Linked DNA regions of Homo sapiens: region 2 is linked to region 1. A link means that fine-mapping ties the variant in region 1 to the expression of a gene that starts in the linked region. Tissue or cell type: whole blood. Region 1 holds a variant in brackets; the other region holds the start of a gene. All regions are shown on one strand. Distances are from middle to middle.

Evidence for each region. PIP is the estimated chance that this variant, and not a neighbour inherited with it, causes the effect.
Region 2: it holds the start of MGLL, and the variant in region 1 is fine-mapped to the expression of MGLL in whole blood (INTERVAL, PIP above 0.99).

Annotation. Positions count from the first base shown.
Region 1 is chr3:127,951,145-127,959,409 of GRCh38, reverse strand. All of the region lies in intron 4 of KBTBD12 (kelch repeat and BTB domain containing 12), which reads right to left. Among named protein-coding and RNA genes, the nearest start is that of KBTBD12, 40 kb to the right of the region's middle. The variant C/T (reference allele first, on the strand shown) is at 3,581.
Region 2 is chr3:127,818,212-127,826,211 of GRCh38, reverse strand. It overlaps MGLL (monoglyceride lipase), which reads left to right and starts at 3,697. Exons shown (of 8, transcript NM_007283.7): 1 at 3,697-3,903; 2 at 4,374-4,518. The coding sequence starts at 3,894. RefSeq lists a silencer at 2,736-3,255 and an enhancer at 7,666-8,000.

The DNA of each region.
Region 1 (8,265 bases):
GCTGAGGAATGGGCAGAGCCTTCCTCTCAGGCTTCAGGCAGAGGGAAAAGCTCCCTGACATGACTTAGAGTAACTCATTTGGTCATAAATGTTTGAGAGAGGTAGGAGCTGTTGGTGGACCTAACAATAGAAAAGGATTTTGCAATGCATAGGCTTCTAGGAGTTAAACTGGCCCATATATCTGAGTGGATGGGCTACTTTCTGACTCACATGTCAGACATGATCTATTCACTGCTAATATAATGCTTGTGATGATTTGTTTCATTCTCACACAAGTTGTCAGCTCTCTGATTTTTTTCCAACCTCGTATCAGAATTCTAGCTTTGGTGCCTAAAACCCTAGAAAACATGAACCTAGCTTCTTGCCACTTTCTAAAGTCTAACACAGGAGGCTCTTGGGTATTTTCAGAATGAAGCCCTTCAGTACAAGGCTGACAGCTGCTTACCTGCCTTCTACCGGATTCTGGTTGATACTGTGCAGTGCTCATCAATAGGGTGCCTGGGCTCACAGAACAGGGCTGCTGGGCCCCCATGTACTGTGGCCATTCTCCATTCTCTCTATCTGCTGGCCTTCATAGCCCTTGACCAGCTTTTTCTTGCCAGGCCAGGAAAACACAATCATCTGTCTGCTTTTTGTTTGCTACCCCACACAGATGACTATGAAAATCAAATAAAAGAGCTTCAAGGGGAAGACCAAGTTCCATTTGTTACAGCTTGATTTTGCTTCATTTTGGAGGGAAAAATCAAGTGTTGGAATTATCTGATAACTTCCGAGTGGACATATAGCTGGTTTAATAGAACGTTCTGGAGCTGGGCCCTGAGTGCCAAATAAGCTGCAATTACACAATGCTGTCCCATCTGATCCTGAGTGATACCCGGGCTTTTGTGTCAACCCAGCACTGGGTCTTAGTGGATTTTCAGTCGAGTCTGGGCCTTTCAAACCCTGGGCCCATCTTTTCCTTGTCTCTTCTCCATCTTACCACCAGTCTGTCCTGCAGGGGTCCCAGCAGGTCTAAAGCCTGGGCCAGTAAGGGGAGAGCACAGAGTGGAGAGCCTGGACGTGGTGGGTGGGAGTGAGCTTAGGGGATGGCCCATAGATGCCACAGCAGGCTAGAGGTGCCAGCTGCAGATGAATGTCACCACAGCCCTCCTCTCAGCAGTCACCGACTCTGCTGACTGTACCTCCTCAGTGCCTCCCATACCCATCCCCTCCCCTACAGACACCAAGTCTTGGTGACCCAGCTGCTCCTAACTCCTCACATGCCTGGTCTGCCCTTCTCCCTCCTGCACCGCCCCTGCCCCTGAGGCACCAGAACACTCAACCATTCTCCAAATAAGGGAGGCTGTTTGTCTCTAGGCCTAGGCTTGGGCTGATCTCTCCGCCTAGAATGGCCTCTTCTCCTCCTCAACTTGGCAAACCCCTACTCCTCTTTCAAGGCTCAGCTCCACCTTCAACCTCTCACAAAGCCTTTCATGTCTCTACACAGAATTGGCCATTCCCTCTTTTTAGGCTTCCACTGTCCTGAACAGAAATCAAGGTTCCTATGAAAATACATTGCTCTAATTTATCTCCCTATATGTTGCCTTGTTAGATGAGACTGTAAGTCCCTTGAGGGCAGATGTCTAATCACATCTGTATCCCCAACACTTTCTACACTGGGTACGGACAGTGAAGACACAAACACTGAACAGAATGCATGGGTGGGTCAGCTCCTTACTCATGTCCTAGGTATCTTTTTTTCTTATACTTTTTTTTTTGGTGGCGGTTGGGGGAGCGGTCAAAACAGAAAGTGATAACTGGCTTTTCAGAATATGGCAAGTCCTAAATCCAAAGAGCTAAAAGTTGGCTGATTATAAAAGTCATCTTCTTAAGAATATAGGAATCTAATCTCAGATCCTGAGAAAAATGACTGCTGTCTGTTGTTGGGCTCATCTTTTCCCCCAGATTGGCCTGCCTAATACTAGTACTTCTATGAAGTGGTCCTGCAAAGAGCTATTAGTCAAACCTATTCCACAGCTTAGAAATGAAAGAGACACAAAATTTTATAAGTCCTTGAAGGCAAGGTCTACATCTTTATCTTCCCTGAGGTGCTAAGCACAATATCTTCTAAAGGATGCTTGACAGTATTTGTGAAATAAATATTAAAGAAAAAATATTATAATAAGTCTTTGGCATATTTATCTTGTGTCTAAGTGAAATGATTTACAGAAAATGATAGTTTGTGCTCATTTCCATATTTACCCAAGAAATGGCAGAGGAAGGGAGTGATAAAAATATTGATCACATGTATGAGTTAGGATAAAGGAAGAAAGATAGTACATATTACTCCAAATGACAGTTTTTTGGTAATCGATATTTTCCTCTTTAAAGCACAAAAATTTTCCATTTCAACTCTTTATACTGTTTTAAAATATGTATTACGTTCTTCTCTGCCTTAGTGAACTGAAGATACCAAATATAGTGGAACATTTTCTTAAGGATTCAGGAGTAACAAAATGATCTGCTGTTTATAATATGCCATGGATATAGACAGTTCTACACATTAAGCTGCACAAAGACATGCCTAAGATTTGCTTTCTTAAATCCTTGTTATTGGCATGTTTTCTTTTTCTTTAACAATTTACCTCTTTTTCATAAAAGCAAAGCACAGATTGTATAGTTGTACAACTCTTTGCCTCTGTAACATTAAGCTTTCCTGCAGACACACACTAGTAGATCAGAGCCTGAGACAGCATTCTCCTAGGATATTTCTCATCCACGCGCAGTAACATGAGTACTGTCCTGTGGGGCTTTCACACTGTAGAAGCTTCTAAACATTCTAATTTCAGAATCAAACACATTTTAAACTTGTAGTTAATTTAAGCAATCTAAAAGTATATTTTGGATACCCACTCATGTTTGTACTGGGTGTCATAGAATAACAAGTTTGAGGATTTTTTTTTTTTTTTGTCCATAAGACACTCAGAGTCTGCTGGGAAATAAAGGACAAATATGAAAACATATATAATACAGGATTATAATTACACACTGATGGAATAAAGTGTAATTTTTAACTCACTGTCACAATAATATATAGAATGCTAACTCCCTGTGAACTTGTGGGATATCAATGATAAAAATTACTATAGCTAAGTTGCAATTTGGGAGCCACAGGTAAACTTTGGTCTTTTAGAGTACTTATTTCTGAGTTATTTGTTGAGGGTGCCAGATAATAAAGGTTTAAAACCCCTCATATGATTAACTGGAAATATATTTTATAGATACTTATAGCAAAAACATAATGAGCCATTCACTCCAGCTCAGAGCTACTGAATCTCTAAATCCAAGTCTTTTTTCAGAACAAGGAGGCATGAGGAATATCTTGTCTGACTTCTTTGGCCATGGTAAAGCATTTCTTTCCTTGTTCATCATGAATGTATGAAATGTATATCTAAGCCCAGAACACTCTTGCAATTAGAGCAGAACATAACTGACAGCCTATTCTGGCTTATCAGTGCCAGGACACTTTGAGCAAGTAACTTTATCCAACTTCCTAGAATATTCAAGTACACAATGATGCTGTTTAGAGGAAGAGATATTG[C/T]CTTATTCATCTGTATCTCTTCTAAAAGCCAGCCCAGGGCCTGGCTTATGTAACATATGCTTAGCAAATATTTTGAGCATATAATATGTCCATTAATATGATATTACCTTTCCACTTTCCTCAGAACATCTGTGTTTTTCGAAGTGCAATCCTGTGATTTTTTTCACGCCAGAATTGCCTCTATATTTCCTACAATTCAGATTCCTAGGTTTCATTTTAGACTCACTGACTCTGAATCTGCCAATAGTGAGGGCCAGGAATCTGCCGTTTTAGTAGGCAACCTAGGTAATTTGAGACTTACACTTTTCAAAAATTGCTTAGAATTTTATCAAAAGAAAAGGGTAAAATCTTACCACAATAAAGCTTGGTCTTCTCATTTCACAAACTAACTCACCATTAAAATTATCTTTGAAATGCAGTTACTGTAATAATTTGAACCTTTTATGTAACTTTTCCCTTCATTACTCTTTAATGGCATTCAAGCTGAGAGTCAGACTTGGACAGTGCTGTTATGTTTTCAGTAAACCAATGAGGCACAAAATGGTTTCCTGGAGAAAACATTGATAGTTTGGGACATTAGCTATGTGGGAAAACTCAACATTAACTGTCTCCCTAGACAGGGAAATGAAAAGTCCCTATTTCAAAACATTCTCCATAAGACCTGTAAAACTCTGATAATTTCTGTGGCATTTTACATGATAGAAGAATAGGACAGGTTACAGAGATGTGAAAATGCAATTCAGTAAACAAATACTTACTGAGCATCTATAACGTAAAGCCAGGCCCTGGGCTGGCTTTCAGAGGACACACAGAGATGAGTAAAACAACGTCTTGTGCCTTAGACAGTCTGAGTATAGTGTGACAAGGGCAGCGACTGGCAAAGCAGCATGCTCTTCGTTCTGACCAAAGGATTACATAAACCACTACAAGGAGATGGGATTTTTGCCAGATTTTGAGGATGTTGAGTTAGGCCCTACACGCAAAGGGAACAGGGTAAACAAAGGCACAGGAGGAAAGCATGTTCAGGAAGTGACCCCCAGTCCCTGTGGCTGGCGCTAGGCTTTGTGGGGTGGAGGAGTGGCAGGAGGAGCTGAGGCTGCAGGGGCAGGCTGGGGCCACGTGTGAAAGGTCTACTGCCTCCATAAATAGATTCTGGCCTCACTTTCTATATTTGATTTTGCCTGACCCATCAAGCTGAAGCAACTTTTGAACGCAATTTGACATTTTAAGAACACTTGATGGAAATCCAAAGCATATTCATGAATACACATTTTCATTTCAGAAGGAAGCATAATTTATTCAAGAGCATAACTAATAGTATGAGATCTAAAATGCTTTCCAGTTTATCTTACATGCAAACTTCTTTTCTAAGAGACAGCCCCTGGTACCATATTTAAATCAGTATTTTATAACAGAAGCATTCACCAAGGACTCATAATGAGATTTCAGTGAGGTTGAACCCAGAATGTTCTACCTTCCCCCAAATTTTACTAATAGGAGTCTGTATTTGATTCATTTTCTACTTTATTATTCATAAAATGGATTTAAAACCTTGAAAACAAGGCATTAATATTTTCTACAGCAATAAGATATATTAACCTAAAATTTCTGGACTACCTTTTTAGGCAATTAGGATGTATTTTAGATTAAAGAAGCTTAACTAGCTCTTATAATGAGCTTTCACTGTACAAATGACAAAAGATTTTTCCTTAGAACTAAGGCACCTTCCCTTTGGTCTCCTCCTGCATGTCAGTGGTTCTGTCATTAAACAACAGACCACTCCTTTCTGCACTTCCTAACAAAAATAGTTACGTTCCTGAGAAGGGCCTCAGGAAAAAAAAGTCAAAAGGAAAGCTGGCTGGTTTTAAATACCTGTGTTTCCACTTAGGGTATCATTGACTCATAAGACTTATATAGACTAAATTATTTTAGGCTTTCTAGGAAGTTATCCAACAGAAGAGCCAATTACAGTGTGGCAAAGCTGACAAAATGCACATGTAACCACATGAGCAATGGAGTCACTTGAGCAATCTGGCCATATCTATTCCTTTATTTTTATGTTAAGAAGGCAATTTATAGATTTCCAGGAAAAACTATCCAGTATATGACTAATATGCCCCTTGGCTAGTTTGCCATAATTCCAGAAGCTGTTTTCATCTAAATTCAAATTATTCATGGTATCTGTGACAACACACTTTTTAAAGACAAACATTTACACGAGAAAAATTCAGCATAGGTTTTAACTGAAGTCCATATTCTAAAATCTTTACAACTCAAAGCAAACCTCCAGGGTCAGTGCTAGCCACAATGTCCGGTAATACAATGTTTTCATCTTTAATTCCTATTAGAAGAGTACATTCTGGACAATATTTTCAAAGAGTTCCTTACATGAAAATGTGTACCTGGCTCCATACAGAAAAGCAGGCTGTGTGAATGTGCAGTAAGTATGTCATTAGCGCATGTTTACAATAGGAGGAAATGAAGAAAGTAGAAAGACTCAGTCCTTTGACTCCCAACGCATGAGGACAGAATGACCTCATCTCAGTATGCCTCCTCATTTGGGCCTGGCAGGGCATTAACAATAAGATGACGGGCTGAACATTATTAGGACACTAAAGCACAGTGGACTCTTTGCCACTTACTATAAGCAATAATGATTGTTATAACTCTCATCTATTGAGCACTTCTCATATGCCAAGCACAGTGTTCAGCATTTGGCATAATACTCTCTTAAGCTTTGCAACAACTGCATGAGTTAATAATGTATTATTATCATCCTTATTTTATGAATAAAGAAAACAGATTTAGCAAAATTCAGCAACTTGCTCAAAATCACATGGTGCTATTAAGTTGCAGAGATAAGATTGGTCTGCAGAAGGACCTTTCCTTTCTGTGGCTTATTTCTGTTAAAGAATACACCTGGGAAACCTTTGTACACATGAGATTTACTCAGAAAATTTATAAAAAATGTAATAAGGTAAAGGCAAGGGCCATTAACCAAATGATTCCGATTATCCTGCTTGCCTAAATCTTTCCCTGTGGTGGTTAGATGCTGCCTGTTACAGTAACTCCTCATTTAACAGGAAGTCAGACGATTGCTAGTGCCCAGAGCACAAGTGAAAACCCTGAGCAATGTAAAACAAGTGTCTGAGTATTGGTGCTGTGATAAAAGACCTTGAATTTTATTCTGAAAAAACTGGAGACATTGTTAATGACACAAGGTCTAATGGCCTAACTGTATGTGTAATCTAAACATATGTACAATTGCCTGCATATATAGTCTTGTATGTAAAATCTATTTATATGTATGATTGATGCATAATCTTGTATGTACAATCTGGTAACATAACAGGGAGAGAGCAACAAGAAAAGAAATGGTAACCAACAGCAGTGGGAAGGAGAGGAAAAAAACCCATGAAACCCTGTAATTTGTGGCCTTCTAGTTTAGGGAGCAAATACAGTAGTACATTACTCAATGGCCAATGGACATCACTCACATATAGAGAAGCACAATTTTTGATGCTCTTAATGACTGAGATATTTTAAAAAGTTATTTTAACTTTAAAATTGGACAGATCCGTGTTTGAACCCTGGATTTAGTCACAATATTTGTGTAATAAAAATAAAGAATTTACTTTTGTAGGATATTGTGAGAATTGAGACAATATATGAAATCACCTAGAATTTAGTACTTCTTCAAAAAAATATTATTTTCCTTCAAAGAACTCTTTCACAAGGCAAAGAAGAGTGTGATAACTTGGGATACTTTTTTCCTTGTTAAAAATGTAATCAGATTTAGCCACTTAAAGGTACTGGCATGAATTCTTGGGAAAATGTAACTATATAGAATCTTTCATTTTCCAACAAAGCCAGGAAGACAGTGTTTATACTACTGAGAACTCAAACAGTCAAGGTAGCTTATCTACTTAAGAGTATGTCAGACCTTGGAAAATCTAGATCATGCCTTTATACTGCCCTCTAATCCCTTCTTGCAATACCTTTGTTATACTTTGTTGCACAGTCTGATGTGTTTATCCAGAGTCTTAAATCTACAGAGCCACTGTCCTAAGAAATGTTTCAACGAATAATTTAAAGACAAAATTAACAATGGTGATGAATATTGGGACAATCCCTGATGGTCTGTCTTGCTGCTTGAAGATGAGAAAGGGAGGGGTGGGATACAGAAAAGTCCCATGCTCCTGAGAAAAGACTAATTGTTCCCGAGCCATGACAAGTCAACATCAGAAGTGGTTTTCATCCTGATTAATCAATCAATGACAACTTGCTTCAGTGACCATGACTCTGGAATCAACCAGTCAGAGACAGCCTCACACTGTGGAAGGCAGCCAATCAGAGGCTGACTCACTCCACTGAGTCCTCTTCTAAGGCTGACCTGACCCCTTCCTGCCTCAGCAATGAACAAACATAATCCACACTTCTGAGGAACAGCAATCCACTCTCATCTTTGTAACCAACATTAAACCAAACTCAACTCCTGCCCACAATCCTATATAAAATCATCAGTTTGCTTTGTTCAATGAGAATATCTCTGACCAAATAACCATTCCTACACTAAGTAATCAATAAATTCAGCTTTCGTGGTTTCATATACTGAGTGTGGTCTTATCTCTTAGCAGTAATTGACATTTAATCAAAAAATAGACTAAGATTCATTCATGAATACT
Region 2 (8,000 bases), 130 kb after region 1:
AAAAAAAAAAAAAAAAAAGGGGGGTGGGGGGCAAGAAAATAGCCGAAAGACAAGAAAAGACATTTTACTGAATGGGATATATAGATGGCAAATACGCACATGAAACAACATTAGCCATTAGGCAAAAGCAAATTAAAAACCACAGTGAAATATCATCACTACACACTTAACAGAAAGACTAAAATTTTTAAAATGGTGACAACACTACATGCTGACATGAATGCTGAGAGACTGGTTCTCTCCTACACTGCTGGTAGGAATGTAAAATGCTACAGTCACTCTGGAAAACATTTTGGCATTCTCTTTAAAAACTTGCAATTTCCCTACAGCTCAGCAATTGCACTCCTGGGCCCTCATCTCAGAGAATGAAGACTTAGGTTCACACAAAAACATGTACACGGAGGTTTACAGCAGCTTTATTCTTAATCAACAAACACTGGAAACAACGCAGATATCCTTCAGCAGATGACCTGTTAGACACACTGTGGTACTTCCATACTGTGGACTGCTACACCCAACCCACCTGGAATTATGCTGAATGAAAAGGTGAATCCTAGAGGTTATGTACTTTATGATTCTATTCATAAAATATCCTTGAAATGACAAAATTTTAGAAATGGAGAACAAATTAGCAGTTGCCAGGGGTTCTAGGGGAGTGAGGATGAGAGGGAAGTGGATGTGGCTATAAAAGCATACCACTTTGTGGGGTAGAGACGTTCTGTAGCTTGACTACAGATATTCTATCAGTGTCAGTATCCTGTTGTGATATTTACTGTGGTTTGTGAGAAGTTGCCATTGCAGGAAACTGAGTAAAGGGCACATAGCATCTCTCTTTATTATTTGTTACAACTGCATGCGAATCTACAATTATCTCAGAATAAGTTTAATTAAAAGAAAAAGCCAGATACAGAACAATACGATCTGTCTCTTAACTCCCAAATTCCCAGTTGGCTGGCCACACACCACAGTCTCAGTTCTGTCCATAACCAAGTTTGGGGGATCTCTTCAAGTTTGCAAATGTCACTTCTACTGAGATCCCTCTGACAACTTCAGTGAAGTCTCTCCTCAAAGCTTTTTTTTTTTTTTTTTTTTTTTGAGACAGAGCCTTGCTCTGTCGCTCAGGCTGGAGTGCAATCACTGCAACCTCTGTCTCCCGGGTTCAAGCGATTCTCCTGCCTCAGCCTCCCGAGTAGCTGGGATTACAGGTGCCCGCTACCATGCCCAGCTAATTTTTGTATTTTTAGTAGAGATGGGGTTTCACCATGTTGGTCAGGCTGGTCTCCAGCTCCTGACCTCAGATGATCCACCTGCCTGGCCTCCCAAAGGACTGGGATTACAGGCGTGAGCCACTGAGCCCGGCCTCTCCTCCAAATTTTCAAGCTGTGTATTTTAAATCATAAAATGTTAGAGCCAGGAACATTTGAAATAATGCCTTGATAAAAGCGTCCATCAGACCCCCGAGCACCCTTCCTTTCCATGAATTATAACCAACGGAAATCCGGTGCACTTAGCATGTCCAGCTTTGAGTGAAGCCCCCAAGCTTCCTGCCCCTGAGACTGCCGCCCCTAAACCTCTCTTGCATGGATTCTGTAGAGCTGCCCCGACCAGAAGTCACTTAGCCACTCCTCTGCTCCAGGCCTCGTGGCCTGCTGGAGGCCAGACAGTGGGTAAGTCACGCTCAGCAGTGCCTACAACTCAAGCCACTGCTCAAAGGCTGTTGTTTTATTTCTCAAGTTAGACCACAGGCTCTGTAGCAACTTGGGCCTCCTTGGACACACACAGTGTGACGCTGAGACACAGTCCTCAACGCTGCTATGGTGTAGAATTTTTTGCGGAGAAAGACAGGAAGGCCTCTTGAGGTCAGTGTGAGACAGGGACACTCCACTGGGGCATAGGTATATCACTCACAGGTTGAAGGTAGGTAGACTGAGGCTCAAAGAGCAAGCGGAGGAGCTAATGTTCAACCCAGGTGGTGTGGAGTCTCAGTCCAGTGGCCTTACCCTCCACGGCCACGTTGCTAGTTATACTGGACAGAGCTCAGACTGTGCCCTGGCCTGTGTAGATGCACCAGAGGTTTTATCTGGGGGTCACAGCCGCTGGGAACGGGAGAGTTGCTGGGGATTGCCAGGAAGGGACAAGGCATTTGTAGCCATGCACCATCTGCTTTTACACTACCCTAGAGTCAAGTGGACCCCCTCCAGCATTTTTTTTTCCCCGAGATGGAGTCTCACTCTGTCACCCAGGCTGAAGTGCAATGGTGTGGTATCGGCTCACTGCAACCTCTGCCTCCCGGGTTCAAGCGATTCTCCTGAGTAGCTGGGACTACAGGCGCATGCCACCACGACCGGTTAATTGCCCCTCCAGCATTGTATGTGTCTGACTGCAATGAAGTGTGAGTGTGTCTGTGTGCGACTGTGTGTGTATGATGTGAGTGTGTCTGTGTCTATGTGGGGGCCAGGTGTATAGTCTGCATATGTCTGTGCACCTCTGTGTCTCTGTGGGTTGTCTGTGCCTATGTCTCGGCTTGTGTGTGTGCATGCATGTGTGGTCTGTGTGTGTCTGTATGCATGTGGTATCTCTGGGATGTGTGTCTGTATGTCCCTGCGTGCAGTGTAGTGACTTTGGGAGTGCACATGTGTACACGTGTGGTGAGTGTGCGGCCCTGCGCGAGTTGTCTGTGTACGTGTGGTGCCTGTGGGTCTGTGTGCGCGCGTGTGCCCGTGGGTGTGGTGTGTCCTCCCGCGCTGAGGCTCCCATGAACCCAGCTCAGTTCAGGCCTCCCTGACAGTCCTCGGGCGGCCACCCCGGGGCGCGGCTGTCCACGAGGCGCGGAGGAGAGGAGTGCGTGGCTGGGTCGGCGGGCGGCGCCCCCGCTCCTCCCCGCGGGCCGGGCACACGTGGGCCCCGGGCGCCGCCTCCCCGCGCCGCCCGCCGCCCGCCGGGTCCCGCGCGTCCCCACCCACCTCGGGCCGCCCCCGCCGCCGAGCCGGCCCAGGGATAAAGTGGCGGCGCAGACGCCGCACCCTGTCGCCGCGAAGCCGGTCGCGCGCAGCTCGTCCCGGCCCTGGCCCGCCGCAAACGAGGATCCGCTGCGCTCGGGGAACGCGACAGCGGCGCTCGTGGCCCCGGTAACTGCCTCCCGGCCCCTGCCCCAGCCCGCCAGTGCCGCCGTCAGGGGTGGGGAGCAGCACTGGGGTCCCGGACACGCCCGGCGTGGGCTCCCGCTACCCATGTGTGCGTGTGTGTGTGTGCACGGTGTGTGTGCGCGCGTGTCCGAGTGTGCGCGCGTGTGCGCGCGCGCGCGCCCTCCCTGCTCCTTCGCACCAGCCCCCAAACCAACTTGTCCCCATCAACTCCATCTTTCTAGTCCCCACCTTCCCCGGTGCAGACACCCGGCGAAGCCCACCCGGTTTTCCCAGCGGCATTTCCGATGACAGCTTCGGGGCTACGTGTCCTGTGCTGTCGGAGACGCACAGGAAGCAAAGTTTGTGAGAAGCCTTGGGGGCGACTTTGCCTTGGGCACCCGCATTTGTGCGTCTGCGAGGTGCCTCGGTGTGCGCGGAGCTAGTTTCCCAGTTTCCCGGGCCCCTCCCTTCTCCGAGCCCCTCTAGCGATTTGTTTAGGAAAAGTGATGACATGAACTAGTAGTGGAGAATCGCAGCGCCGCTCCCCGCCCTGGGGAGGGAGGGGAGCCCCGGAGAGCCTGCCGGTGGGAGCTGGAAGCAGGCTCCCGGCTGAGCGCCCCAGCCCGAAAGGCAGGGTCTGGGTGCGGGAAGAGGGCTCGGAGCTGCCTTCCTGCTGCCTTGGGGCCGCCCAGATGAGGGAACAGCCCGATTTGCCTGGTTCTGATTCTCCAGGCTGTCGTGGTTGTGGAATGCAAACGCCAGCACATAATGGAAACAGGTTTGTCATGTATCCTTGGAATTTCAGATGGGAGGAATAATCTGAGTATCATCCACCTCATTATTGTGCCCACTTGAAACTGTTCCTTGGAGATTTTAAGATAGATGGGTCTTCTTGCAGCTGGGTCTTTGTACCCATAGAGCTGACTATAATTTCCACTTGATTACAGCTAAAATAGTCTTTAAGATGAAGTTTCCTGAAATGATTTAAAATAAACACAGATGGGAAGGGGGAAAAACTGTAATGAGGCACTTAAAAAATAAAGTGAGCATTTTCTTAAGAACAAATGGGATTTTTCAGTCTTGGAGAGGTTTGCAAGAAATGTATGTATGTTTTAAACCTTTGAAACAGAGGGGTTTTTTAAACTGCTTTTAAAAAAATGTTACTGACTCTGAACTAGACTTTTCTCTCCTATCCATACATGTTCTTGAGATATTTCTGACTTTGGAATATGTCACTTTTCCTTCTAGGACCTGAAGACCCTTCCAGCATGCCAGAGGAAAGTTCCCCCAGGCGGACCCCGCAGAGCATTCCCTACCAGGACCTCCCTCACCTGGTCAATGCAGACGGACAGTACCTCTTCTGCAGGTACTGGAAACCCACAGGCACACCCAAGTAAGTCTTCCCCAGAAAGTCACCCCAGGTGACAGGGGAGCATGGCCCCTGCTTCTCCTCTGGTCGTTATCATGTGCCATCTGGGGCGGGGCCGCTTTCTCTATGACCTACTTCCCCTGCCGTTTTAATGTTAGGCTGAGCAATGTTAACAAAGCTAAAATGTATACTTTATAATTTTTAAATTTAAGAAGCAGGAATTCTTTTTTCATTATAACAACTCAGATATGGATCCTACCGTATGGCAATTTTCAAAAATTCCACATGACTTTATTTTTTGTACTGGAGTTGATTTCCGGTTGTACAGGCATTCATTTAAAATCAAACCCGACAATTAAGGAAAATCCCCTAGATGGATGAGAAACCCGAAGTAATACATATATCTTCACCTTTGCTCACTTTTCCTGCTTGTTTCTGAGCTTCTGAAGATGGCATACATGTGTCACCAGGAAGAAAGGGGCCTGGGTATTTCCTTCTGATTCCTTGCCAGCTCAATTACTTTGTACATTTTCCATCAAGGATTTGTCTTGCTATTAGAAGCAAACATTGGGACTATACACAAGACAGCTGGTCTCCTGCTGCTGCTCCCTCCTCTTGGATGAAGCAGGAAAACCCTGCTTGTTTGTGTTATTTGGAAAAAGAATTTATTTGTGGTAACCAATTGGCCTGGTGACAAGAACATTTCCTGTTCCAGGGACATTTTACCTGTTTTGTAGGCCTCTTGTCTCCTAGGGATCATTGTGTGGTTGGATTATGTCTCTCTTTGTGCTCCAGTAATCACCCAACCCTCACACAGGTGTAAAATTTCTTCTCTGTCTTCATCAAGGTATCTATGATCCAGGGAGCTGCACGTTAAAAACACAGAGATATGGACTTTTAAAACCCGGCATAGAGTCATAGCTTCAGGGCAGCTACACAGACTGGCTATGGTTTCTCTCTAGTGTTTTCAAGTGGGTAACGTGCTGAGAAGAGTTCCTACCAGTTCTGGTAATACATTTCTTAAAGAATGTGTCTGTACGTGCATACGCATTAGAGGAAGTGGGGGGGTTGTTGAGCATTATGATGCTAATTAATCATTAATTCTCCACTCTGACTTAACTGGCTGTAGAATTGCTCAATCTTGGATTAATTTCTAACAGATTAGTGGTTTGTGGTAATTTGATCAATATACAGAAAGAAGACAAATAATTGAAAATAGAAGTTTTTAATGTCTGAGTCTCAGACTTGGGGGGCTTTGTTGGTTAAGTAGTGAGGTTGTCCTAGTTCGAAGTCAACAAAAATAAAGAGGTTCTGCAGTCCTGGCACAGGGGGAGGGTGGTGGGTGAGTGGGTTAGAAACGGTCAAGTTGGCTGCCCTGCCCTCCCTTCGCCTGCGGGTGGTTTTCACAATCTCTGTGCTGAAGTTGCATTGCAGGGAGCCCTCTCTGCTCCGTTGCTTTTGCTCTAGTTAGAGATGATAACTCAACTTCTTAATTTAAACTGAGCTGCCTCTTGGATGTCAGCGTCCGCCTTGTGGTGGGTGCTGATGGGCTTAAGAACAGAGGTGGATGGTTGAGGCAGTTCGGCCCCAGAATTTGGAAGAAACCTATGGGTCTAGAAAAGGTTAAGGGAAAAAAATATTGAGGGCAGGAGCACTGAAATAGAAAGAGCAACAGAACCATGAGCATGTATGAACACTTTCCATAGTGTTATCCTCAGTTTACCAAAGAGGAAGGGGCTGGCCAAGGTCCTACCTACCTGTCCTGCCCTGCCTCCAGCCCCTGGAGATGATGCAGAGGTCCTGGAGGCCCCTTGCCATGACTCATGTTAACCCTGTGCTTGCTGGATCTTGGGGCAGTCTTGGGGGTCCTAGGGTGGGGGCTCAGGGCAGAGGTTTGTGCCAGCCAGCATGAAACACCTCTGTATCTTCATAACCGAGACCAGCTGCTCAGCCTGCCTGCCCTCTTGCATGATCTGGGAGACCCCCGCAGCATCATTATAATAAGTATTATTATTATTGCCTGCACAGAATCATTCACTCTGCTTTTAGGAAGAGGGAGGGGACCTCAAGTCACCAGGGCTTCAATCTTTCCCCCCAGGCTTTTTACCCCTCTTCAGCAAAACTAGGGCCTCGCTTTGTGCAATCCTGTCTCCTCCCAGTTAGGAAGAAAGAAGGGAGGAAAAGCAAGGGGCAAAAAAAGAGGAGACTGAACCCTCCCCCACTACTGTACCAACTGTGGGCAAAACCTGGGTTAAGAGCACCTCATCTCCAGCCCCGCCTCTGCTATCTTTCTCATAGAGACCCTAGGGACCTCAGAAGCCACCCCGGGGGCCTGTGGATATCTTATTATGCAGAAGGATCTGTGCCAGCCTCGGTTAGTCAGTACTGGTTTGGGTAGATTTTCTGGCCAACCAGTTACCTCCAGCTCCTGGAGCCTGCCGTGAGCACCTACAGAGACATATTGCCCCCAGAGGACCTGCTGGGTTCCAAGACTGGCTCTGCAGGTGGCTCGGAGCAACACTAAGCCACAGGTGTCAGCCGCTGCACTGGGAACCTGGCTTAACCCGCTTTATGCAAGCAAATTCTGTCGTATAAACACCAGCCTCCTCGGACTGGACCCTGAGAAAGAGAAAGCATGTCTTGGGTTAGCCTTTACCATCAGTGCTGTTTTTAACGTAGCAGGCCAGAGTCTCCGTATTTCATCATCAGGAATCAGAACTTAAACCTCCATTTGGCAGTACCAAGGCAAATTCATGCTGTAGTGTTTACGGTAATAACAAATCTTATACTTAAGGCATGGCACAATTATCTCATATTAATTGAGTGCCAGGTATGTTCTAGGGTCTGGACTAGATTCTGTGCACACATGACCTCATTTTACCTTCACATCAATCTGTGAGACAAGTATTATTATTCTTACTATTCCCATTTTACAGATGAGGAAACAGAGGTCCAATGTTACAAAGTATCTTTCTCCAAATGACCCTGCTGGCAGTAGTGGGATTTGGTCCGCAATCTTCTGACATGGACCAAATCCAATTGTTCTCCTTACACCACCAAGCAGGACAGATTTCTTCTTTATAGGTAGTGTTTTCCTGATAAATTCTTACATTTTGGGTTAGGGTAAACATCATTTCCTAGGGTAAAGAGGAAGAGAATAATTAATTCTCCCTAATCGTTTGCTCATAATATATCAAAGGTGGGAAATCAGCTGGGTTCCGTGGTACACATCTGTAGCCCCAGAAACTCAGAAGACAGAGGCGGGAAATTCCTTGAGACCAGGAGTTTGAGACCAGCCTGGGCAACGTGTTGAAATTCTGTCTCTTAAAAAAAAAAAAAGATTAGAGATAGGTATCCCTTCTGAAAACAACAACAACAATAACAAAAAACAGAATTTATGCCCTTGCCTGACTGGCTGCCTTATCCAATTCAACATGCTGGAACTTAAAAATATTGGCCGGGTGCAGTGGCTCACGCCTATAATCCCAACACATCGGGAGGCTGAG